3 linked regions of the Homo sapiens genome follow. The protein of the gene in region 3 purifies or fractionates together with the protein of the main gene of each other region. This does not show direct contact. Each region holds a gene or a part of one and is shown on either strand. Other genes may lie near its edges. The genes, in order: ABHD18, ECI2 and PRIMPOL.

Evidence for each region.
Region 1: the proteins of PRIMPOL (region 3) and ABHD18 purify together in Homo sapiens (affinity purification with mass spectrometry; 2 studies listed by BioGRID and IntAct, with this or other methods). This does not show direct contact.
Region 2: the proteins of PRIMPOL (region 3) and ECI2 purify together in Homo sapiens (affinity purification with mass spectrometry; 2 studies listed by BioGRID and IntAct, with this or other methods). This does not show direct contact.

The regions. Positions count from the first base shown.
Region 1 is NC_000004.12:128,030,719-128,038,993, reverse strand, and holds part of ABHD18 (protein ABHD18), read right to left. Parts: exon of another isoform or gene 7,218-8,275; intron 3,233-7,217; coding exon 3,181-3,232; 3' UTR 1-3,180.
Region 2 is NC_000006.12:4,117,980-4,126,254, reverse strand, and holds part of ECI2 (enoyl-CoA delta isomerase 2), read left to right. Parts: intron 1-17; coding exon 18-120; intron 121-135; exon of another isoform or gene 136-884; coding exon 885-1,005; exon of another isoform or gene 1,006-1,295; intron 1,296-4,208; exon of another isoform or gene 4,209-4,306; intron 4,307-6,979; coding exon 6,980-7,069; intron 7,070-8,275. UniProt on the Homo sapiens protein: Able to isomerize both 3-cis and 3-trans double bonds into the 2-trans form in a range of enoyl-CoA species. Has a preference for 3-trans substrates.
Region 3 is NC_000004.12:184,686,483-184,694,757, reverse strand, and holds part of PRIMPOL (DNA-directed primase/polymerase protein), read right to left. Parts: intron 3,443-8,275; coding exon of another isoform or gene 3,404-3,442; intron 3,260-3,403; coding exon 3,177-3,259; intron 3,093-3,176; coding exon 3,046-3,092; intron 674-3,045; exon of another isoform or gene 549-673; coding exon of another isoform or gene 465-548; exon of another isoform or gene 237-464; coding exon 1-236. UniProt on the Homo sapiens protein: DNA primase and DNA polymerase required to tolerate replication-stalling lesions by bypassing them.

The sequences.
Region 1 (8,275 bases), about 57 Mb from region 3:
TAGATTAAAAAATCCTAAGAAAAGTTATTTTGCACTTTGAATTCTTCAACTGAGGTAGTTTTAGGGATATATATATATTTTTTGAGACAGAGTTTTGCTCTTGTTGCCCAGGCTGGAGTGCAATGGCACAATCTCGGCTTACTGCAACCTCCGTCTCCCGGGTTCAAGCGATTCTCCTGGCTCAGCCTCCTGAGTAGCTGGGATTACAGGCATGTGCCACCACGCCTGGCTAATTTTGTATTTTTTTTAAAAATTTTGTATTTTTAATAGAGATGGGGTTTCTCCATATTGGTCAGGCTAGTCTCGAACTCCCAACCTCAGGTGGTCCCCCCACCTCGGCCTCCCAAAGTGCTGGGATTACAGGTGTGAGCCACTGCACCCGGCCTAGGGATATATTCTTAAAACATCTGGTTAAGAGATGAAATTTTAAAAATACTTTCTTTCACACTTTATTTGAGAAAAGTTAGTTATGCCTAAGAATTAAAACTAAATCAACATTTCATTTTTTTAACAATAGAAATTCACACAACATAGTACATTATTGCTTAGTAAGAAATGTTTATGTGAACAATAATAAAGTATTTGTTTTACTAAAACCATTGTTCAAAAAGCATTCAATCATATAACCTCACTATATACATAATATAAGAAAATCGTAATTCAGTTGACAAGTTTTATTTTAAAAAGTATTTTGTGGAAGAACTTTAGTAGATGTTATACTTTTGGTTAAAACTAAAGGTTCTCATCTGAACATGTAAAATTGCTTATAGCTCAAAGAGCTGTACAGTGTTGGCTTGTTATGCCAAAGTAGTTTGAAAGAAGTTACTACTTTGTCTACCATCAATAACTTCACATTAATAATTTTTAAATATTTGTAAAAAATTAAGATGATAGAGGCATAGAGGTGACAAATGAAATCTCCTTTAAAAAGACTGCAAAGGCACATTATAATTCAAATATCGTTAGTAGACTAAGAATCCCTATTTAAAAATAATTCACAGACAACACAGATTTCAAACAAAACTCAAAAATACCTACTGTAAAACTTCACACAATACCCTAAAATATTTTCGACTTTTTTAACATTTTAGCTGACAGCTAGAGAAGTTTAACATAAAAAGAAAGCACCAAATCGAGCCATATAAACCCCATTTAAGAGAGTTAATAGCTATTACATAAAACTTTAAATATTTTCTGTAAAATAAAGTTTATATGGGACAAATCAATTGCATATGTGTCTATTAAATTTTGAAATTAAAAGCCAAGGCTGTTAAGTATTTGGGTAGTTAGATGGTTAGCAATCCAAAGAATAAGCATATAGAAAAATGTAATTAAAAAAATAAAAATAAAATGTCAGGTCGGGTGTGGTGGCTCAAACCTATAATCCCAGCACTTTGGGAGGCCAAGGCAGGCATATCACTTGAGGTCAGGAATTCGAGACCAGCTTGGCCAACATGGTGAAACCTCGTGTCTATTAAAAATACAAAAATTAGCCAGGCATGGTGGCGGGCACCTGTAATCTCAGCTACTCAGGTGGAGGCAGGAGAACCGCTTGAACCTGAGAGGCGGAGGTCGCAGTGAGCCAAGATCATGCCACTGCACTCCGTCAGTTAATGCAACAGGTCTTCCAATGTTTCCATTTTTGTGAATTGAAACTTTTTAGTAGGGAGAAATAAGTTTGGCATTTTGTTTTGTTTTGAGACAGAGTCTTGCTCCTTCTCCTAGGCTGGAGTGCAGTGGTGCGATCTCCGCTCACTGCAACTTCTGCCTCCCGGGTTCAAGCAATTCTCCTGCCTCAGCCTCCCGAGTAGCTGGGATTACAGGTGCCTGCCACCATGCCCGGCTTAATTTTTTTTTTTTTTTTTTTTTTTTTTTGAGATGGAGTTTTGCTCTGTTGCCCAGGCTGGAGTGCAGTGGCGCAATCTCAGCTCAGTGCAACCTCCGCCTCCTTGGTTCAACCAATTCTCCTGCCTCAGCCTCCTGAGTAGCTGGGATTACAGGCACACGCCACAATGCCCGGCTAATTTTTTTGTACTTTTAGTAGACATGGGGTTTCACCATGTTGGCCAGGCTGGTCTTAAACTCCTGACCTTGTGATCCGCCCGCCTGAGCGTCCCAAAGTGCTGGGATTACAGGCATGAGCCACTGCACCCGGCCTATTGGCATTTTTTAAAAACCCTAATCTTTAGTAAAGTTTTAGTCTAGCAAAGTCTAATGCATTTTATCTGCAGAACACTCATTTTGGTTATTATTATTATTTTGAGACGGAGTTTCACTCTTGTTGCCCAGGCTGGAGTGCAATGGTGTGATCTCGGATCACCGCAACCTCTGCCTCCCGGGTTCAAGCGATTCTCCTGCCTCTGCCTCCTGAGTATCTGGGATTATAGGCATGCGCCACCATGCTTGGCTAATTTTTTGTATTTGTAGTAGAGAGGGGGTTTCTCTATATTGGTCAGGCTGGTCTTGAACTCCCAACCTCAGGTAATCTGCCCGCTTCAGCATCCCAGTGCTGGGATTACAGGCGTGAGCCACCGCACCCTGCCACTCACTTTGATTATTAAAAGCACTTACATTCAAGTAGAGGTACATGTTAAAAGAAAAAAAAAAGAAAAAGAAAAGCACTTATCTATGAAGCTATCAGGATATTTTAGAATTCAAAGTTAACACTGATTTTATATATCATAAGTATTTATTTCCACAGCAGAAAATTAGTTGAACACAAGAACATTCAAAAAATAAACATGTTTCTCAAATCAAGTCAAGAGTGAAATGTTATAAGGGTACAAAGTAAATGCTGATATATTAAAATCTTGGTTTGATTTAGCAATTTTACTAAAACCCAGAAAAGTTTCTATGAATAAATTTATTTAATTTAATAAATTATTCATGATTAAAAATTTAGTTTTTCATAAACAGTAACAACAGACTAAACACTGAATATATGGGATTCCAATAAACAATAGTAAAAACACTTTAACATTATTTACTTCAAATATTATCTTGAAATTATTCAAATGTATTCGAAGTTTATAGTTAACTGATGTGTAACAATGAATTCCAGACCAAATTGATAGCGATTAGATATATTAGTGCTGTCTGCTTGTCCTTCACATGATCACAGGATGAAGCTCCCTTTTGTAAGAAACATCATGGCCACACTGGTTACATATAATAATCCAACTAGTTAGCGTATTTATGGAGGAAGCGGTCAAATGCATCATAGATGGCTTGTCTAAAATTAAATATGAAAGAAAAACTCTAAGTAACTAACAAAAAGGGGGGACAAACAATGCCTTTACTGTAAGTTATTTCCAAATTTATCTGTGGCTTGCAACTTGACATCCTCTCTAAATAGCTATGAAATAGGCAGTTACCCTCCCCAGAATGGGTGTTTGAATCCATGTAACTTTTTTTTTTCTTTTGAGACAGGGTCTCGCTCTGTCGCCCAGGCTGGACTGCAGTGGCATGATCTCTGCTCACTGCAACCTCTGCCTCCCGGTTCAAGTGATTCTCATGCCTCAGCCTCCCAAGTAGCTAGAATTACAGGCATGCACCACCTCACCCTGCTAATTTTTTGTATTTTTAGTAGAGACGGGGTATCACCATGTTGGCTAGGCTGGTCTCGAACTCCTGGCCTCAAGTGATCCGCCTGCCTCAGATGCATGCAACTTTACCACCACTACCGGAAAACCTCAAATATACTTCCAATTTATGAGGGATCTAAAAGCATTATCTTTTTCTGAAGCACTTTTTGTGCCTTAGAATATATATATTCATACATACACGCACGCACACAGAGGCACATGTGTGTAATGTGTATAAAATAAATTATGAAAGAAAAAGGAACTGATTTATTGTCTTATCGCTTCGTTGAAAATTAATTATGTAACTTTTCAGAATGTAAGATTCTGTTTCACAGATTATGATATAGATGTTTTTCATTTACTATGAACATGTTCCTAGCTACTTAAAATCAAAAGCCTTGGTTTCTCACATTAACTTTACCAAGTATTTTAATATTTCAATTGAAAAGGAATAGACAGGCCGGGCGCGATGGCTCAAGCCTGTAATCCCAGCACTTTGGGAGGCCGAGGCAGGCGGATCACCTGAAGTCGGGAGTTTGAGACCAGCCTGATCAACATGGAGAAACCCCGTCTCTACTAAAATTACAAAAAATTAGCCGGGTGTGGTGGCACATGCCTATAATCCCAGCTACTCGGGAGGCTGAGGCAGGAGAATTGCTTGAACCTGGGAGGCAGAGGTTGTGTGAGCTGAGATCACACCATTGCACTCCAACCTGGGCAACAAGAGCGAAACTCTGTTTCAAAAAAAAAAGAAAGAAAAAGAAAAGGAATAGACAAATTTTATCTTCCATAAGATATTTTTTCTTTTCTTTTTTCTTTTTTTTTAGAGACAAGATCTCACTATGTTGCCTAGGCTTGAGTGCAGTGGTTACTCTCAGGTGCAATCATAGCACGCTGCAGCCTCAAACTCTTGGCCTCAAGCTATCTTCCCACCTCAGCCTGTTGAGTATCTGGAACTACAGTCCTGCGACACCCTGCCCCACTCATATTTTTTTCTAAAGCTGTTTTTTTCCTATTGTATAATACATTTTTATAGCAGAATATTCAGAAAATCCAAAACATAGGAAGGGGAAAACATCATAATCCCATCACTCACATCTACTGTTAACCTTTTCATATCTTTCCTCCAGGCTTTTAAGAAAATGCATGTCTAGGCCAGGCGCGGTGGCTTACGCCTGTAATCCCAGCACTTTGGAAGGCCAAGGAGGGCGGATCACAAGGTCAGGAGTTCGAGACCAGCCTGGCCAACATGGTGAAACCCCATCTCTACTAAGAATACAAACATTAGCCGGGTGTGGTGGTGGGTGCCTGTAATCCCAGCTACTCGAGAGGCTGAGGCAGGAGAATTGCTTGAACCTGGGAGGCGGAGGATGCAGTGAGCCAAGATCGCGCCACTGCACTCCAGCCTAGGTGACAAGCAAGACTCCAGCTCAAAAAAAAAAAAAAAAAAGAAAAAAGAAAATGCATGTCTATATTTTCACCCAGTTTAAATAACTATCAGATATTAATTTTGTATCCCACTTGTTCAACTAACCATATCCTCACATCCAAACACAGCTATTAAGACTGTCTTTAGCCGGGTGCGGTGGCTCACGCCTGTAATCCCAGAACTTTGGGAGGCCGAGACAGGCGGATCACGAGGTCAGGAGATCGAGACCATCCTGGCTAACATGGTGAAACCCCGTCTCTACTAAAAATAGAAAAAAATTAGCCGGGCGTGGTGGCGGGCGCCTGTAGTCCCAGCTACTGCAGAGGCTGAGGCATGAGAATGCCGTGAACCCAGGAGGTGGAGGTTGCAGTGAGCCAAGATCATGCCACCGCACTCCAGCCTGAGTGACAGAGGGAGACTCTGTCTCAAAAAAGACAAAAAAAAAAAAAAAAAAAAGACTATCTTTGAAACTGATAGCCTGCTAATAGATTATTATTTCCAATATGTTGGGAAGTCATAGTTTTACAACATGCTTGTCTTTCTTTGGCTCAAGTACTTGTTCCCTGTGAATTATAATGAACCATAAGAAGGGAAAAAAATTAGAGGTGGATATTTGCATGTTGGTGTAAACACATAAAGAGATTTTGTTTTGAAGACAGATATGACAGCAATAGGGAAGAAGTAAAGAGGGCTTTGAAATTATTGCCCACTGGATAATTTTTTTTTTGAGACAGAGTCTCACTCTGTCACCCAGGCTGGAGTGCAGTGGTGCGATCTCGGCTCACTGCAAGCTCTGACCTCTGGGTTCACACCATTCTCCTGCCTCAGCCTCTGCAGTAGCTGGGACTACAGGCACCCGCCACCACGCCCAGCTAATTTTTTTCTATTTTTAGTAGAGACAGGGTTTCACCATGTTAGCCAGGATGGTCTTGATCTCCTGGCCTCGTGATCCACCCGCCTCGGCCTCCCAAAGTGCTGGGATTACAGGCGTGAGCCACCACGCCCGGCCCACCCACTGGATAATTTTTTTCCTCAGAGTTAGTTCCAGGCACTTGCTCTTGTGGAATGAATCTGAATTTGTTTACTTCCTGGTGCCAAAAGTTACAATACGGGCTTGTGTACATGTAATGTATGTCCCTTTTTAATCATGTGAATAGTCTCTTATTCACCTGTATTATCAATAAGCTCTAAATAACACAAAATATTAGAGCACATAAAGGAATGGCTTTATTTATTCATTCATTCATTTTTTGAGACAGAGTCTCACTGTCACCCAGGCTGGAATGTAGTGGTGCGATCTCAGCTCACTGCAACCTCTGCCTCCAGGGGGAATGCAGTGGTGCGATAGCTCACTGCAACCTCCACCTCCCAGGTTCAAGCGGTTCTCCTGCCTCAGCCTCCTGAGTAGCTGGGACTATAGGTGCGTGCCCACCACGCCCAGCTAATTTTTGTATTTTTAGTAGAGACGGGGTTTTACCATATTGGCCAGGCTGGGCTCGAACTCCTGATGTCATGATCCACCCGCCTTGGCCTCCTGAAGTGCTGGGATTACAGATGTGAGCCACCGCACCTGGCGGCTTCTTTTATTTTTATGTTTGGTGTGTGAAAAGACTGAATTTTTAAAAATTCTACTATTCCAATGTCATCTAACCTCTGTTAAGTTTTGAAGTGACTGATGGGGAATGGAAGAGGTCAAATAGCTTAGTAGTGACTCCACTTGAGCAAGTTACTTAATCTTTTTTGTTCCCTTTATTCTGTGTAAAGGGGATAATAACAGAGCAATTGCCCTAGCATCTGGCACATGATAATAGTTAACATTTATCTCTCTCAAATGAAGCCTTCATAATAGCACTTTTGTGTTTTTATATTTGACTTTGATTATAAATCTACTCTTCCTAATACGTCTTAGCTATACTCCCACTTAGATACACAAAAGAGTGAAAGAAATTTGATACTAATTTACTAATGCAAGCATGTGGGTCCTCTGCGTTCACATGTATAACAGAACTTTAGACTCTTCTTAAGCAATCCTAGCAACCCTAGGTAGTCACGGATTTTTGTTTATTTGTTTTAATTTTGTTGTGCCAGAGGGCCAATGAGTATTGGATAGTCTGCTCACTCACCAATAGGGACTCAAATGCTGCATGAATACTTCTTAAAAGATCATACTATAAAAAGAAAGGTTTACTATATCCTTCAAGACATGAGAGACTTGAACAATTGGTTTATTTCTAAAAAGGGTGACATTTATAAGTTGGGCTAGATAAGTAACAACATAGAAAAATTATTTCCTCCGTTAACAAGAGCTAAAACATGTCAAACATATCACATACAATTCTTCTATTATATAGCTATCCAGTTGGAAGTTTTTTTTAACACTTATGTACAGGGCACTGATCTAACCATTTATGTGAATCAATTTACTTAATCATTAATAATAACATGAGGAATATGTTTCAATAATGCAGAATACCAGAAAATTATAGTTTTAGCATAAAAAAATTTTTTTTTTTGAGACGGAGTCTCGCTCTGTCTCCCAGGCTGAAGTGCAGTGGCGTGATCTCGGCTCACTGCAAGCTCCGCCTCCCGGGTTTTATGCCATTCTCCTGCCTCAGCTTCCCAAGTAGCTGGGACTACAGACATGCACCACCTATGCCCGGCTACTTTTTTTTTTTTTTTTTTGTATTTTTACTAGAGACGGGGTTTCACCGTGTTAGCCAGGATGGCCTTGATCTCCTGACCTCGTGATACACCCGCCTCCGCCTCCCAAAGTGCTGGGATTACAGGCGTAAGCCACCGCGCCCAGCCAGCATAAAAGTTTTTATAAGTTCTAACTAAAATAGTGGAGTCATATAAGGTTGTTCACATTAAAAGCACTTCTTATTTAAGGTTCAATATTCACTTGCTAACTGAAAAACATTGCTAAATTATTCCACAGATGTTCAGGCCATTCTGAAAAAACATCAGAATAGAGTGAAAAAACTCTTGATGCACCAAAGCAACTTTAACAAGCCATGATCTTCCTTCTCACATCCTAAAATACCTGGCCATTAATATTTGAAGAGGGGAAAGCCACACGATAAAGCATGCCTATAATATGCATCATGCTTAGTTCTCTAGAAGAAAATAAGAAGATCAAATTCTAGGAAAGAGGGAAAAGTAACTCTGTGAGATTTGTGGGAGGTGAGGAGGGAATTCAAAGATTGAAACAGACTATAAAAATATGTGATCTTTTACATTTGTTGAAGCAAAAAATCCAGAA
Region 2 (8,275 bases), on a different chromosome or scaffold from region 3:
GATTTTCTTACTTATAGGAAATGGTGACTATTACAGTAGTGGGAATGATCTGACTAACTTCACTGATATTCCCCCTGGTGGAGTAGAGGAGAAAGCTAAAAATAATGCCGTTTTACTGAGGTAAGAGTTACTGACCTTTGTCTGATCCCAGAGGGCCCGTTCTTAGTCATCAAAGTGGTATTTAGTTGAGCAAAAGTGCAATATCTGCTTCTCTGTGTCAGTGCAGTTAATTGTGACTTTGGACAAGCATATTTCTCTAAACTGCCTCCATCCATAGGTGGGCATTCATTCTTTCTCTTTGACCTCTGTTACCTGTTCATCCTGCTGGTCTCATGAGATTTGACTGGAAAACATAAAAGTGAGCTATAGTTGTAAACAAAATTATCTTGCACTGAGGCAGAGGAATTTAGCAAATTCTCATCCAGCCAGAGGAATGGGAGATTTCCATGAACGCTGAAGGTAGGAGACTCGGAGGAGTCTTGTAAACACAGGAGGAGGTCATGAAGGCTTTTCTCTTTATTCCTGCCAAATCTGTAATTCCCACTTGTTGTGATATTGCAGCATGTGCTCAGTCACCCAACCTAATCTCTAAGACTGCGGCTGGTTTACAGCCCTGAACTCACTGTCCAGAATACAAGATTCAAACCAGGGTTGACCCATAGGTCTCACTGGTTGGTCTTCCATCCACTGCCATTCAGACGGATGCCCTGGATGAATCTGGTGCGGAAGACCAGGGAAGTGGCAGGACAAGGAGGCACTGCTGGTGGTGGCTGTGGAAACACCCAGCCTGACAGAAGGCTTTATCTCAGAGTCAGACTGTCTTGCCCATGCTTTAGTCATGCTGCTTTGGCACATTTAATGATTTTGTGTTTCCATTTCTGTAGGGAATTTGTGGGCTGTTTTATAGATTTTCCTAAGCCTCTGATTGCAGTGGTCAATGGTCCAGCTGTGGGCATCTCCGTCACCCTCCTTGGGCTATTCGATGCCGTGTATGCATCTGACAGGGTAAGTCAGCTCCTAGAAAGCAAGAGGTCAGGCAAGCAGCGCGAGATGAGAGCCTTTGAATCCTCCTTCAGCGTTGCCAGTCATAAGCAGGTTACATGTTGTTTGTGGTAGAATTAACTGAATTTAGATTTTTCCCAAAGCATTAGGCTGATTTGACTGATTTTATTTTTCCTTCATTATTAACTTGCATTTTGTTGTGAACATTGTTCCAACTCTGACTGTTCCGGATTCTAATCAAATTCCACAATAGGTATACAGCTTTCATGTTATTCTGAAAGATTCAGGAGACACTTGAAAATTTGTTATGGGAGGGAGGAATAGCATCTTTGCAGGTTGTGCAAGGGATTAGTTGATCCTTTTTACTGAGTAAATGGATTTAGAATTTTAGAAGGAGAAGGACCTGTGAGCATTATCTACTGTCACTCCCTCCTTTGCAGATAAGAAAACTGAAGCTCTGAGAAGTTCCTTGCCCAGAACACAATTCAGCCTTGTGTTCACCATTGCATTATACAGATTTTAGTTTTTATTTTTACTACAGTAGTAATATATATGTCATAGTGGAAAATAAAATTTTGAAAGATATGAAAAAGTACCAAGAAAAGCTACAAGGTAAAAATCACTCCTTATCTTGCCACCTAGAGATAACCAGTCCTAACGTTTGGGTTATTAACTTATCTTGTTTAACCAGTCCCTGACTGCTGGAACCCTAGGCTGTTTCCAATTTTTATCATTACAAGCACCTAATAACCACCTTTAGGGTATCAGATTGTCCAGTGACTTATGCTTATGTGATGGTAAACTGTGCTGATGATTGCAGCCTTCTAGGGAGCATATGGTTTTTACCACTGAAGAGATTTCTAGTTTTGTTCAGAGGTATTTTCCCCACTGATAGACAGGACCATATAATAGCATCCTTAATTCTTCGAATTTTCTTTTGCTGGATTCCATTGAACCAGATTGGATGTATTGACAGACCTAATTCTTATGAATAATTTTCCCACAAAATTAGCAAATGAGATTCTAGGTGCCAGGCTGCCCAGCCTTTGTAGGTAGAGGTTTCTGTTCAAAGGCAGAAATCAATGTCTTTGTTCACAGTCTGTGTATTAGATGACTGATTAGTCATTGACCTGCTTTTAACAGGGACTGGGTCAATGGTTCCTGACCTAAAATTGGGGATCTCATTCTTTAATACTTGGAGGGCAAATATTGTATTTGAATCTTGTTCTGATTCTCCCACTGAATTGAAAATTACTTTCAATATACATCATCCTTATTTTTTTTTTTTTAAGAGATGGGAGTCTCACTCTGTCACCCAAGCTGGAATGCAGTGGCACGATCTTGGCTCACTGCAGCCACCACCTCCCGGGTTCAAGCGATTCTCCCACTCAGCCTCCTGAGTAGTACAGGTGCGTGCCACCACATCGAGCTAATTTTTTTGTATTTTTAGTAGAGACAGGGTTTCACTGTGTCGGCCAGGCTGGTCTCGAACTCCTGACCTCAAGTGATTCGCCTGCGTTGGCCTCCTGAAGTGCTGGGAGTACAGGTGTGAGCCACTGAGCCTGGCCTGCATCAACCTTTTAAAAATGTTGATGACTTCCATCTTATGATATAAATTGTAATAAATGTTGAAATCAGAAAACATATATACATAATACATATAAAACATATCTATTCTATATATATTATAATATATGTATATTGCATATATATATTAAATGCTAAAAAATTTGGCCAAAAGTAAAATTTATTTGTCAAATAGTGTCTTCTGATAAAAGTTTACCCAACCAAACAAATCAAGCATCATTTAAAATAAAGGAAATTGAGGTGGGCAGATCACCTGAGGTCAGGAGTTCAAGACCAGCCTGGCCAACATGGTGAAACACCATCTCTACTAAAAATATAAAAATTAGCCGGGCTTGGTGGCGGGTGTCTGTAATCCCAGCTACATTGGAGGCTGAGGCAGGAGAATTGCTTGAACCCAGGAGGTAGAGGTTGCAGTGAGCCGAGATCGTACCACTGCACTCCAGCCTAGGTGACAGAGCGAGACTCTGTCTCAAAAAAATATATAAGTAAAAAATAAATAAAATAAAGGAAATATGCTAAAGGAAAAGGCTGTAGAAAAAATTGTTTTATAAGATTTACCATTATTGGCTTCAAGAATAAATATCATATTAAATGATGGGTTAATATTTAACCCATATAACCAAAATATTAATCAGTACATTTAATCTATTTTATACTGTGGGCAATGGTTAATAATGCCTATTAGCTCTGTCAGCAAATGATACATTTCCTGTATGAGTTAAGAAAAAGGTAGAAATCATAACAATAATAAATCTTTGAGTGGTCACTGTTTAGGCACTCTATTCACATGCATTATGTATATTATAAATATACGCATACACACACACATATTCACGTAATGTACAGAGTAGCCCGATGAAAGAAGGACTTGGCCAGGCACAGTGGCTCACGCCTCTAATCCTGGCACTTTGGGAGGCCAGGGCAAGTGGATCACCTGAGGTCGGGAGTTCAAGACCAGCCTGGCCAATGTGGTGAAACCCCTTCTCTACTAAAAATACAAAAATTAGCCAGGTGTGGTGGCAGGCGCCTGTAGTCCCAGCTACTTGGTAGGCTGAGGCAAGAGTAAGGCTGGGCAACAGAGTGAGACCCTGTCTATAAAAACAAACATTCTCCTCCAATGTGGCAAAAATAAGTTTTACAATCTAGGCTGGGCATGGTGGCTCATGCCTGTAATCTTAGCACTTTGGGAGGCCAAGGCAGGTGGATCACTTGAGGTCAGGAATTCGAGACCAGCCTGGCCAACATGGTGAAGCCCCGTCTCTACTAAAAATACAAAAATGAGCTGGGTGTGGTGGTGCACGCCTATAATCCCAACTGCTCGGGAGGCTGAGGCAGGAGAATCGCTTGAACCCGGGAGGCGGAGGTTGCAGCGAGTTGAGATTGCGCCACTGCACTCAAGGCTGGGCAACCGAGCAAGACTCCGTCTCAAAAAAAAAAAAAAGCAAAGAAGGATTGGTTCCCATTTTACAAATGAGAAAACTGTGGTACAGAGAGGGTAAGAAACTTTCCCAACGTCCCTAAGTAGTCTGACGCCAGAGCCTAAACCCTTAACTCCACCTGCTGCTCTCTTTCTGAAAATCAGCATTTTAAATGCTGCTTACTGGCAACTTTGCATGTACCTGTTTGTGTCCCTTTAGCTGTTGTTGGCAGGTTTCTCAGTTTCCTGCTTGTATTCCTTAGGCTGTGTCTTCTGGGTACATTTTTTTGAATAAGTTTTCTTTTGGATAAAAAAAGAAGATACATGACATTAACAGAAACTTTTAAAAATATTGTGATTATTTTTATGTATATGCTGCATATGTTATAGATTTATATCTTCTAACAGTTATATAGTAAAAACAACAGCGTGTCTGATTATAGGAAATGAAATCTAAATATTCTTTTACATATTATGAATTTTAAATTAACATTCTTTCATAATTTATTCATTAAGAAACACAAAAATATGTCTTAAATGTAAAAAAAAAAAAAACTAAAAATGACTATATACTAAATAACCAATATTGAATTAATTCCAGTAGTTAAAGCCAACCAAAAAAACCACTGGGGCAAAATCAAGACAAATGACAGATTGAGGAAACAATTTTTCAACTCATGTAACAAAAGCTGATCTCTCCACGATACTTTTTAAAGTTTGTCTATAAAGCGATAGATCCACAAGCTAAAATAAAAATGGGCAATGGTGAGGAATGAATAGGTCAGACAAAATGAAATATAAAGGGCTATTAAAACCATATGAGAGAAACCACTGAGAAAATGAAAAGATAAGCCATAGACCAGGAGAAAAGATTTGCCTGACGCTCTAATAAAAGACTTGCAATCTGAATGTGTATCTTACAACTATATAATAGGAAGGTAAACAGCCTAACTTAAAAAAATAGTGGAGAAAATATCTTAACAGTTGCTTCACCAAAGAAAATATACGTATGTCTAATAAGTACATGGTAAGAGACTTAATACCATTAATGGTTAGGGACATGTAAATTAAAACCACAGTGAGACCCCACTACATACATACTAGCATGGTTAAAATGAAAAAGACTTAATAGCTAGGTTTAGTGAGGATGTGGAGCAATTGGAACTTTCATACATTGCTGGTGGGAATGTCAAATGGTACAACCACTCTAGAAAACAGTCTAGCAGCTTCTGAGCTAAATATACATTTACCACACAGACCAGCCATACCACTTAGGTATTTACCTATGATAATTTAAAAGAGATTCACCCAGTGACCTGTACACAAGTGTTCCTAACTGCCTTTTTGTTAACATTATCTGAACATTTTTATTTTTAAATTTTTTTTCAGTTTCATTGAGGTATACTTGACAAATAAGAATTGTACAGTCAGGTGCTGCATAACAACATTTTAGTCAATGGCAGACTGCATGTAAAACGCTGGTCTCCTAAGATTATAACACCATATCTTACTATACCTTTTCTTTTTTTTTTTTCACTCTGTCATCCAGGCTGGAGTACAGTGGCATGATCTCGGCTCACTGCAGCCTCCTCCTCCCGGGTTCAAGCAATTCTTGTGCCTCAGCCTCCCGAGTAGCTGGGACTCCAGGTGCACACCACCACACCAGGCTAATTTTTGTATTTTTAGTAGAGATGGGGTTTCACTACGTTGGCCAGGCTGGTCTCGAACTGCTGACCTCAGGTGATTTGCCCACCTCTGCCTCCCAAAGTGTTGGGATTACAGGCATGAGCCACCACACCCGGCCTACCTTTTCTATGTTTGATATATTTAGATACACAAATGCCATTTGTTATAACTGCCTAGAGTATTAAGTATAGTAACATGCTGTCCAAGTTGGTAGCCTGGAAGCAGTAGGGATTACCACATAGCTAGGTGTGCAGTAGGCTGTGGCATCCAAGTATATGTAAGTATACTCCATGATATTGGCACAATGACAAAATTGCCTAATTATGCATTTCTCAGAACATATCCCCATTGTTAAGCAACACACGACTAGATATATTTAAGGTGTTCAACTTGTTTTTCATAGCAGCCTTCTTCATAGTAGCCTTTCATACGTTGCTAGTGGCAGTGTCAAATGGTACAACCATTTGAATGCTAGAAACAACACCAATGGCATTAACTGGTGAATGATAAACATATTATTGTGCATCCATACAAAGGAATACTACTCAGAAATAGCGAGGAACAAACTACTAATACATACAACAGCATGGTGACTCTCAGAAGTCAGACTCAAAATGCTACAGAATGTAGGATTCCACTTATACAGCATTCTATAAAAGTCAAAACTGTAGGGACAGAAAACAGATTAGCAGTTGCTTGGGGGTGGGAGGGAGGGACTGACTACAGAAGGGCCCCCGGAACCTTTCAGGGTGGCTGAAATGTTCCGCATGTCAGTAGTGGTGGTGGCTATGTAACTCTCTATTTGTTCAAACTCATCCAACTATACACTTTTAAAGGGTGAATTGTGTGTGCATATTAACCACATAATCTTAATTTTTAAATAAATATTATTAAGTATTGTGAAGTTATAAGCAAATCGTGATTTTTAAAAATAACACATGAAGCCAGGCATGGTGGCTCACGCCTGTGATCCTAGCACTTTGGGAGGCCGAGGCAGGTGGATCACCTGAGGTAAGAAGTTTGAAACCAACCTGGCCAACAGGGCGAAACCCCGTCTCTACGAAAAATACAAAAATTAGCCAGGCATGGCAGCGCATGCCTGTAATCGTAGCTGCTGTGGAGGCTGAGGCAGGAGAATCGCTTGAACCCAAGGGGTGGAGGTTGCAGTGAGCCGAGATCGCGCCACTTCACTGCAGCCTGGGCAAAAGAGCGAAACCCTTTGTCTCAAAAAAAAAAAAAAAAATCACACATGAAAAGATGGTTTTCTTTTCTCTCCTGCCTCTGCAGGCAACATTTCATACACCATTTAGTCACCTAGGCCAAAGTCCGGAAGGATGCTCCTCTTACACTTTTCCGAAGATAATGAGCCCAGCCAAGGTAACTTTTGGAATGTTTAAATATAAAATTTTATGAGTCATCTCAAGAAAGAAGGAAGAGTAATCTCATATACTCTCCCTTCTTTCCCTTGGTAATATGGACAAAAGAGAAGCTAATGATTTGCTTTTCAACTCTTTAAGAGTTTTACCAATGGAGGAATCAGGCTATGGGAAGTATCTGCTATGCAGGAAAATTAGAAATTCTCTCTGCAGTTCCCAGAACTGGGATCCTCCTCTTCAGCTGGCTGCTTAGTGCTAGCTGCACTGCAAGCAGCACAGCACCTCAGCCTTGCAGCTGTGTGGCATTAGTCACTTGAAGGACCAGGGCTGTGCCAGCCTCCCTTGGTCCCCTGAGTTTGGAGGCCACTCGGTTCCTTTATGGATGACCAGTATCTCCTAAGGAGAGACATGATGACGTCTTCACTTTCAGAGTTACAGTAAGTACCAACAGATGGGAGGTTTTGTGGGGGCTCACGGCTGCCAGAGCCACCCCCAATCACAGCAGCCCTTCCATCAGCCTGCTCACGGGTGTATTCTCTCCCAGGCTGGTTAAGTGGCTGCTCAGGTCTTTCACTGTGTTTCCTAGTTGCCCACGCCCTGTGGCATGACTCGAAGGGGATTGTGACAAGACCAGAAGCTGAGCTATAGGAAAAGGCTTAGCAAATATTGCTGCAAGATCTCAAAGTGGGGCAGTGGGAATTGAGCTTGTTTTCATTGCCTATTAGGATTTTGTTAAAAACTTATATATGTATGTTTTTACTCTCATTAGGCTATCACATACCCTGAATTGAACTTGGGAAGGGGGCAGAACTGACTCTACAAGTCTTAGAGCATTTGGCTATTAGAGCATTCCTTGGCTGGGTGCAGTGGCTCACACCTGTAATCCCAGCACTTTGGGAGGCCAAGGCTGGTGGATCACTTGAGATCAGGAGTTCAAGACCAGCCGGGCCAACATAGTGAAATGCTGTCTCTACTAAAAATACAAAAATTAGCCGGGGCATGGTGGCGGGCACCTGTAATCCCAGCTACTCAAGAGGCTGAGGCAGGAGAATCATTTGAACCCAGGAGGTGGAGGTTACAGTGAGCCAAGATCGTGCCTCTGCACTCCAGCCTGGGCAGCACAGTGAGACTCTGTCTCAAAAAAAAGAAGAGCATTCCTTTTCTGGAAAAGAAATTGCAAATGGAGAGAGGATATCCACTTAATGTC
Region 3 (8,275 bases):
ATTAGTTCATCAGGAATTTCATCCACTTCACTGTTATAACTGAGAAGACTGTTCTCTGCAGCTTCAGCTAATTCAGCATCTTCAGTAGCTTCTAAAAAATAAGCATCATCAATGCCATTATCCCAGACAGCATCAGCAGATGCACCTGTTGACAGCCTGCTAGGTGATGGTTTATGAGGATTCTGGGTTTCATTGCTCCTAGTTTCATCTGCTTCATCTGTTGTAAACTCTTCTTCCTTTATTTCAGTGGTGAAGGGATAGAGAGTGGGATAGGAAAATATTTACTCAGGATATGTGATTTAACCTTATACTCTATGTTGAAGTAAGGTATTAAGTGACAGATACTAAAGTGAATATGCAGGAGGAATGCTGTCTCCGATATCTCACCGTGGGAATGAGTGCACTGATTCAAACGTTGCTGCACTGAAGCTCAGACACACTTGAAACTCCAAATTTGAAATTACCTACAGTTCTGTGCACATACTTTTCAATACTCCCCGACGGAAGAGCAAGGGTGGATTTAATTTTTTAACAAGTGGACAGTCCAGCTGAAGACAAATCAGAAGATAAATTTGCTATCTTGACAATGGACTTAGTACCCATGCTTTAAATTTTAAAGTATTTAGCAAATCGTAAACATGGATTGAAAAAAGATTAAAAACAGTTGCCAAAATATGACTGGATTGTATATTACATAATAGTATTGTATCAATTATTTTACCATAGAATGTCTTCAGTATAGACATTTAGTTGATCCGCCCAATACATTATTTATGTAAAGAATGTCCTTATTCAGTGCAGTGGCACGTGCCTGTAATCCCAGCTACTGGGGAGGCTGAGACGGGAGGACTGCTTGAGGCCAGGAGTTTGAGACCAGCCCGGGCAACATGATACCCCCCTGTCATTAAAAAAGCTACAGAATGTCTTATTCTTTCCGCTACGTGCTTAAATATTAGATGAAGGGTTTTGATGTCTGCAGTTTAAGAGAGTCATCAAAAATAATGCGTATGTATACAGTAGAGGGAGAAAACCAATGTGGCCAAGTGTTAACAAATGGCAGATCTCAATAGAGGACAGACAGCAGAGTTCCTTATTCTTGTACATTTCTGTAGGTTAGGCCTTTATAGTAAATTTAAAATCAAGTGACCAATGAAATATCAGTGCAATAGAAAAGCAGGTATAAATAACACCAACTGGTAATTTAAAATATTTGTTTTAAAAAACAAGATGAAGCAGGAGAGGCAAAATGTTAACTGAAAACTAAGTGACAGCTACATGGGTGTTCATTATATATCTTACTTTAAAAAGTTATGTCCAAGTAGTGGTAATACTGACCAATGGTACTTTCAACTTGGCATTTTTGAGGTGTTACTAGATAAGCGGAAAAAGTAGCTTAAAAATCCACTGCAACCACGAATATCTAAATCACAATCCAGACTAACAAGGGCGATGCAATCCTCCTCCTCTTGGAGACAGTTTATTTTTTAAAATTTACTTTGTTCTTGGTTATTTCAAAACACATTTTAACCTGGTATTTTGCCAGAGAATCTGGCTATCAGTTATTTTATGTCCAGTTCTTGCAGACCAAGAATGGAATTTCCACCATTTCAAACATATGGAGTTTTTTCGAGAGACGTGTTAAGACTGAGTTTTCTAGAATATAAACCCCATCACCTGTTCTGCTTGTAGCAGGTAACTTCTTTTATTCTATTAACACTATAGAGGAGAAAGCTGACAGATGTGACAAAAAACAAAACACAAACTACAATTTAAAAGTGAAATACGTCAAAAACAGTACTTAATTACTGCAAAAAAGTTACAGAAAAATGGACAGAGGACAGGTACAGGCACTTCATTATAGAAATACTAATAGTGAATCCGAAAAAAGTTCATTACAGAGATGCAAATTAAAACAACTGAGGTACTGCATTTTGCCTACCAGATTGGTAGTGATTCGAGGTAAACAAGCACTGCTGGCAAAGTGTGAGGTAATAGGTGCTCTCATAAATTATCTGTGGAGGTCTAATATCCTATACTTTTTATGGAGAGCAATTTGATAATAGGTACTAAAAATATTTGTGATACTTTAGAAAAAAAACTGAAATAGTATGTGTGCTATCACTTCAAAAAAAAAGAAAATGAGCATACATAAATTCTCGAAGGTACGTGCCAAAACGTGTATCATTTATTTCTGGTCAAATGAGTAAGGAAGATTCTTTCCTCTTTGCTTCTTGTGTATTTCCTAATTTTATGTATTTTCTTTCTTTTTTTTTTTTTTTTTTTTTTGAGGCAGAGTCGCTCTGTCTCCCAGGCTGGAGTGTAATGGCGTGATATCAGCTCACTGCAACCTCCACCTCCCAGGTTCAAGGGATTCTCCTGCCTCAGCCTCCTGAGTAGCTGGGATTATAGGCATAGGCCACCACACCTGGCTAATTTTTGTGTTTTTAGTAGAGATGGGGTTTCTCCATGTTGGCCAGGCCGGTCTCAAACTCATGACCTCAAGTGATCTGCCTGCCTCAGCCTCTCAAAGTGCTGGGATTACAGGCCTGAGCCACTGTGCCTGACCTAATTTTATGTATTTTCAATTCATTCTACAATGCACGTTAATTATTTGGGTAAATAAAAAATCTTTAAGAGAAAAATGTTGGTTTGACAACCTGGTAATACCTACCAAAATTAAAACTGAATATGCCCTTTGACACAATTCTACTTCTAGAAATTCATCCTACAGATACAGATGTTCAAAGAAATACAAAGATGGGTATTTTGTTACTTTGAAAAGCAAAATATGGGAAACTTCTTAAATGTCTGGGACTGATTAAACTGTACACCTCAAGCAGCAGTAAAAAAAAAAAAAAAAGGTTTGTATTATCAGATATGTGCTGAAATGGGAAAATCACTACAATATATTCCTATAATACAGTCATAAGTGAAAACAAGGTAGCAAATGGGTTTCAATGCTATTTGGACACTACTCATGGCTCAGGTATACTATTGTACCAAGAACTCCCTGGTAAGGAGAAAGACACTAAAATCTGTACTTACCTCTTTGAAAAGAAACAGGAGACATACTTCAGCAGGTAATGGGAAACCTGAATCAGAAAGATAGCAAAACTATTACATATTACAGTTATCTAATTTTTACTTTGTGGTAAATGTAAAAATTAGTAACTTACAGTCAGATTTGAAGTTTTCTGCTTTACATACAGGGTCATGACATTTTTGATACCAAACTTCATTTTTCAGATCAACCAGAATCCTTTATGTTTAAAAAAAAAAAAAAAGTATTAATACCAAGACTGGGTAGAAAACAAAATCCAGCTGCATGCTGTTCCAAGAAATATGCCTAAGACTTAAAGATGGAGAAAAATTAAAAAGTAAAAGGATAAGGATAGATACATACCAATCAAAACGGTGGTTGCCAAAAATCACACAAAATGAACTGCAGGGCAAAAAGTAGATACTGATGAAAGTTCCCCCAGGAAGATGTAACAATTCTCAACCTGTACTCACCAAATAATACAGCTGCAAAATATGTGAGCAAAAATGGACAGGACCACAATGATAAACAAATCTACCATAAATCAAGGTTTTTAAAAAACATACTCTCAGTAATTTATAGATCAAAGGATAACCACAAAAAAGGTCCAATAAGGATACAGAAAAAATGAATGACAAAAAGCAATTAAGAAGTTTGATCTAATAGGTAAATATGAAGCAGTTCTTTATAAAACCAATTCCATGCTAGCTATAAAGTGAATTTTATCAAATTTAAAATCATCACTTCATACAGAACACATCTGAGCATAAAGCAAATTTTAGAAATAAAACTAATAGAAATCCATAATTTGGAAATTAAGAACAACTTGAAACAACCAATGGTTCAAGGAAAAATAGTGGAAATTAGAAAACGCTTAGACCTGAGTGGACTGGAAGTGTACATATTAAAATATGTGAAATGCAGCTAAAGTCACCTTTAGAGGGTAATTTATAGTCTTAAAATCTTGTGTTATGAAAGAAGAATAGCTAAAGATACATGGATTAAGTGACTAACGTGGAAAACAACGAACTGAATAAAGAGACCAGCCTGGCCAACATAGTGAAACCCCGTCTATACTGAAAATACAAAAATTAGCTGGGCGTGGTGGGGGGCACCTGTAATCCCAGCTACTTGGGAGGCTGAGGCAGGAGAATCACTTGAACCTGGGAGGCGGAGGTTGCAGTGAGCCAAGCTGGTGCCACTGCTCTCCAGCCCGGGTGACAGTGTGAGACTCTGTCTCTAAATAAATAAATAAGTAAATAAATAAATAAAAGGCAGGCAGTCATAAAGAGACAAAAGTAAAAAGAATCAACGAGGCCTACATTTGAAGAAAATGAAATTAGGGTAAAATTGATTTAAAAATAAGGCAAAGACACAAATGTTATTAGAAATTAAATGCATCATATGTTTTTAAGAAAACAATATTGTGAACAACTTTTGCCAGTAACTTTGAAAGTTTTTGTAAAATAAAGTACTACATAAAAATAAACTAAGCAAACTTAAAAAGCAACAGAAAACCTAAACAATCCTATAATCACTAAAATTCTTAAAGATTTGATTAAATAGTTGAAAATGTTCCCACATTTTACAGAAAAGGAAATAAGATGGTTAACACTCCCCATGGCAGTAGGTGAGGTGTGGGATGGGGAGGTGGTAAGGGACCTGCACCCAGGAGCAAAAAAAGGCAGGTGACTTAGTCTAATCTTCCCTTAAACATTCTAGTAACAGGCCTCCCAATTAATGAGCTAATAATGCTGTGGCTCCCAAACTGTACAGGAAGGTGCCCCGGGCACTGCAGGATATTGAAATACTGCTAGAAAACACAGTGATACTTGACATTTCTTGAGCAATCTGAAAACTCCTTGCCTGCAGTTCACATGTGACTTCATTCCTTTCATTCATGCTCCATCTTTGTAGAGCTGGGCTTTGGGGTGTGGTTGTAATAGAAAGCACCATTAACATCAGGCCGGGCATGGTGGCTCGCGCCTGTAATCCCAGCACTTTGGGAGGCCGAGGTGGGTGGATCACAAGGTCAGGAGTTCGAGACCAGCCTGGCCAACATGGTGAAACCGCATCTCTAATAAAAATACAACAAAAATTAGCCAGGCGTGGCGGTGGGCACCTGTAATCCCAGCTACTCGGGGGGCTGAGGCAGGAGAATTGCTTGAAGCCAGGAGGCAGAGGTTGCAGTGAGCCGAGATTGCACCACTGCACTTCAGCCTGGGTGACAGAGCAAGACTCCATCTCAAAAAAAAAAAAAAAAAAAAAAAAGCACCATTAACATCAATGGAGAACAAGGTATGAGTTGGGGAGGGTGGGGTCTAATCTGATTCCAGGGTTTAAGAGTGCATACATAGGCCTGGTGAGGTGGTTCACACCTGTAATTCCAGCATTTTGGGAGGCTGAGGTGGGAGGATAGCTTGAAGGCTGGAGTTCAAGGCCAACCTGGGCAAGAGAGGGAGATCCCACCTACAAAAAATTTAAAAATTAACCAGCCATGGTGGCACACCTGTAGTCTAAACTACGTGAGAGGCTGAAGCAGGAAGATCGCTCAAGCCCAGGAGATCAAGGCTGCAGTGAGCTCCTGCACTCTGTCCTCAAGCCTGGGCCATCACACTGCACTCAAGCCTGGGCGACAGGGCGAGACCCTGTCTCAAAAAAATGAAAAAATGGAGAGTATACATCCCATTAATAAGTAATTGTATTTAAGAATGAAAAGTGGCTTTTTTTTTTAGTTTATGGATACTATTATTCAAACTGCTACTAAACTGTTCGGACATAAACACTTACCAAGTTGTTTGAAATTCATTACCAGAGCTCGGGTATTTCTGTCAGCCTCAGAGAAAATGTGAAGAAACAAAGACACCAGGGGAACCATGAACCAAGAAAATCGGGGAACGTCTGGACCAAACGCTAGGAGTTCAGTCCTTACCTACAGAATGCTCTTCGTAGGACGTTTCTGACTTTAGAACTGCATTTGGTAAAAAGTCTAGAATCAATGCATTATGAGGCATGCTTTCCGGAAATGTCACCCAGCTGTGCAACTTGAGTGTAAAATGCAGGTGATTCACAACCTCGGTGCTTCCTGCTGTGTGCATGGATTGCTCACGCCTGCCTCGGGTTTCCTCCTGAGTCAGAAAGAGCAGGAAGGGCCAGGGGAGCCGGGCCAGATGCCCCGGGCCTCACTCTGCCCCATTTGTGCCTTTTCATTCCTTGTATTCCTACATTATTAGTAAAGCTTGACACTGGGCAAGATTTCTGATCTGTGTGGATGTAATTTGATTATCCATCCTCAACTTCATTAGTAATCAGGGAAATTCCCAAGAAAACTACAATATTGTTTTACATCTGCCAGATGAGCAAAACCAATTTTTTAATCCTAACAATACTAAAGTGTTGGTGAGAATATGGAACAGTAGAAAAATCTCAAAACACTGCTGGCAGGACTATAAACTGGCACACCCATTTGGGAAAACAATTTATGATCTAGTAAAATTAATTATGTGCATATTCCACGACACAGCAAGTCCACTTTGAGAAACTCTAGCACATGTATACTAGGTGATATGTACAACACGGTTCCCACCTTCACGGTTTATAATAGCAACCCAAATGTCCACTGTGGGAAAACAGATAAACTGTGGCCTATTTATATTTATACACATGGCATGCTGCACAATAGTGACACAAATAAGCAACAGCTACATACTGCAACGTGGGTGAAAATCACAGATATGCTACCGCAAGGCAAGGGAGAGGATGCGATTCGAAAACAAGCAAAAGAAAACACTATATTGTTTATGGCCGGGCACGGTGGCTCATGCCTGTAATCCCAGCACTTTGGGAAGCCAAGGCAGGCAGATCACCTGAGGTCGGGAGTTCGAGACCAGCCAGACCAACATGCAGAAACCCCGTCTCTACTAAAAATACAAAAAATTAGCTGGGCATGGTGGCGCATGCCTGTAATCCCAGCTACTCGGGAGGCTGAGGCCGGAGAATTGCTTGAACCCGGGAGACAGAGGTTGCAGTGAGCCGAGATCGTGCGATTGCACCCCAGCCTGGGCGACAAGAGCAAAACTCTGTCTCAAAAAACAAAAGAAAAGAAAAAGAAAACAGTATATTGTTTAGAGATATGAACGTATATGGGAGAAATCATAAAAGCGAGGAAAAGATGAACACAAAATCGGGATACTGGCTACCATCTCTGAGGGCCAGGGAGAGAAGGAAATTGGGGTTGGGCCCACAGGTGCTTCTGAGGTTTGATCAGCTTCTGGTTGTTAAGGTGGGCGGCAGATACAACAGGTGGTCACTTTAGTCTTTAAAATGTGCGTATACAAGTGTGTTATCGGCTGGGTGCGGTGGCTCACACCTGTAATCCCAGCACTTTGGGAGGCCAAGGCGGGCAGATCACTTGAGGTCAGGAGTTTGAGACCAGCCCAGCCAACATAGTGAAACTCCGTCTCTACTAAAATTACAAAAATTAACCGGGCATGGTAGTACACACTTGTAATCCCAGCTACTTGAGAGGCTAAGGCAGGAGAATCACTTGAATCAAGGAAGCGGAGGTTGCAGTGAGCTGAGATCATGCCACTGCACTCCAGCCTGGGCAACGGAGTGAGATTCCATCTCAGAAAATAAAAAAAAGTGTGTTATCTATACTTTTGTATGTATGATATATTCCACGGTTAAAAAACAGAATAGATTATGGAGACATAATACAAGGTGTTATGATCACCATGTAATAATGATTTTTTGGTAAGTTAATACGCATAGAAAAAAGAACAGAAGAAACGTCAACTGATAGCTGCAGTTATGCCCTGGCTGTGGCACTGTATCTCCTTCGTGTTTTCTACGTTATAGCTTTGTGTATTGAGCATATAGTTTTTGCAAGCTTTTTTTAAACTGAATTAATCTAAGTATATCAAGTATGGCACTGAACCATGCTACCCAATGTGTTTCCAGCTTCCCAGCAAGAGCTTCCCGATCATTCCCCATGTCCAGCACACAGGCCGCATATGCTTGAGGATACGGGAGTTGCTTTGACATGAAATAAAAAACAGCAAAATTTCTCACCTCATAACTGATAACTACTGGGTATCTATTTATCTCTATTCTAATCACATCCTTTTATATTTTAAAGTTCTATTTCTGGCTTTACTTCATCCTTTACTTTCCCTCCTCTTCCCATGGGCGTTTTAAAGAAAATCTCTAAAACAGGGCCTGGCATATATAGCA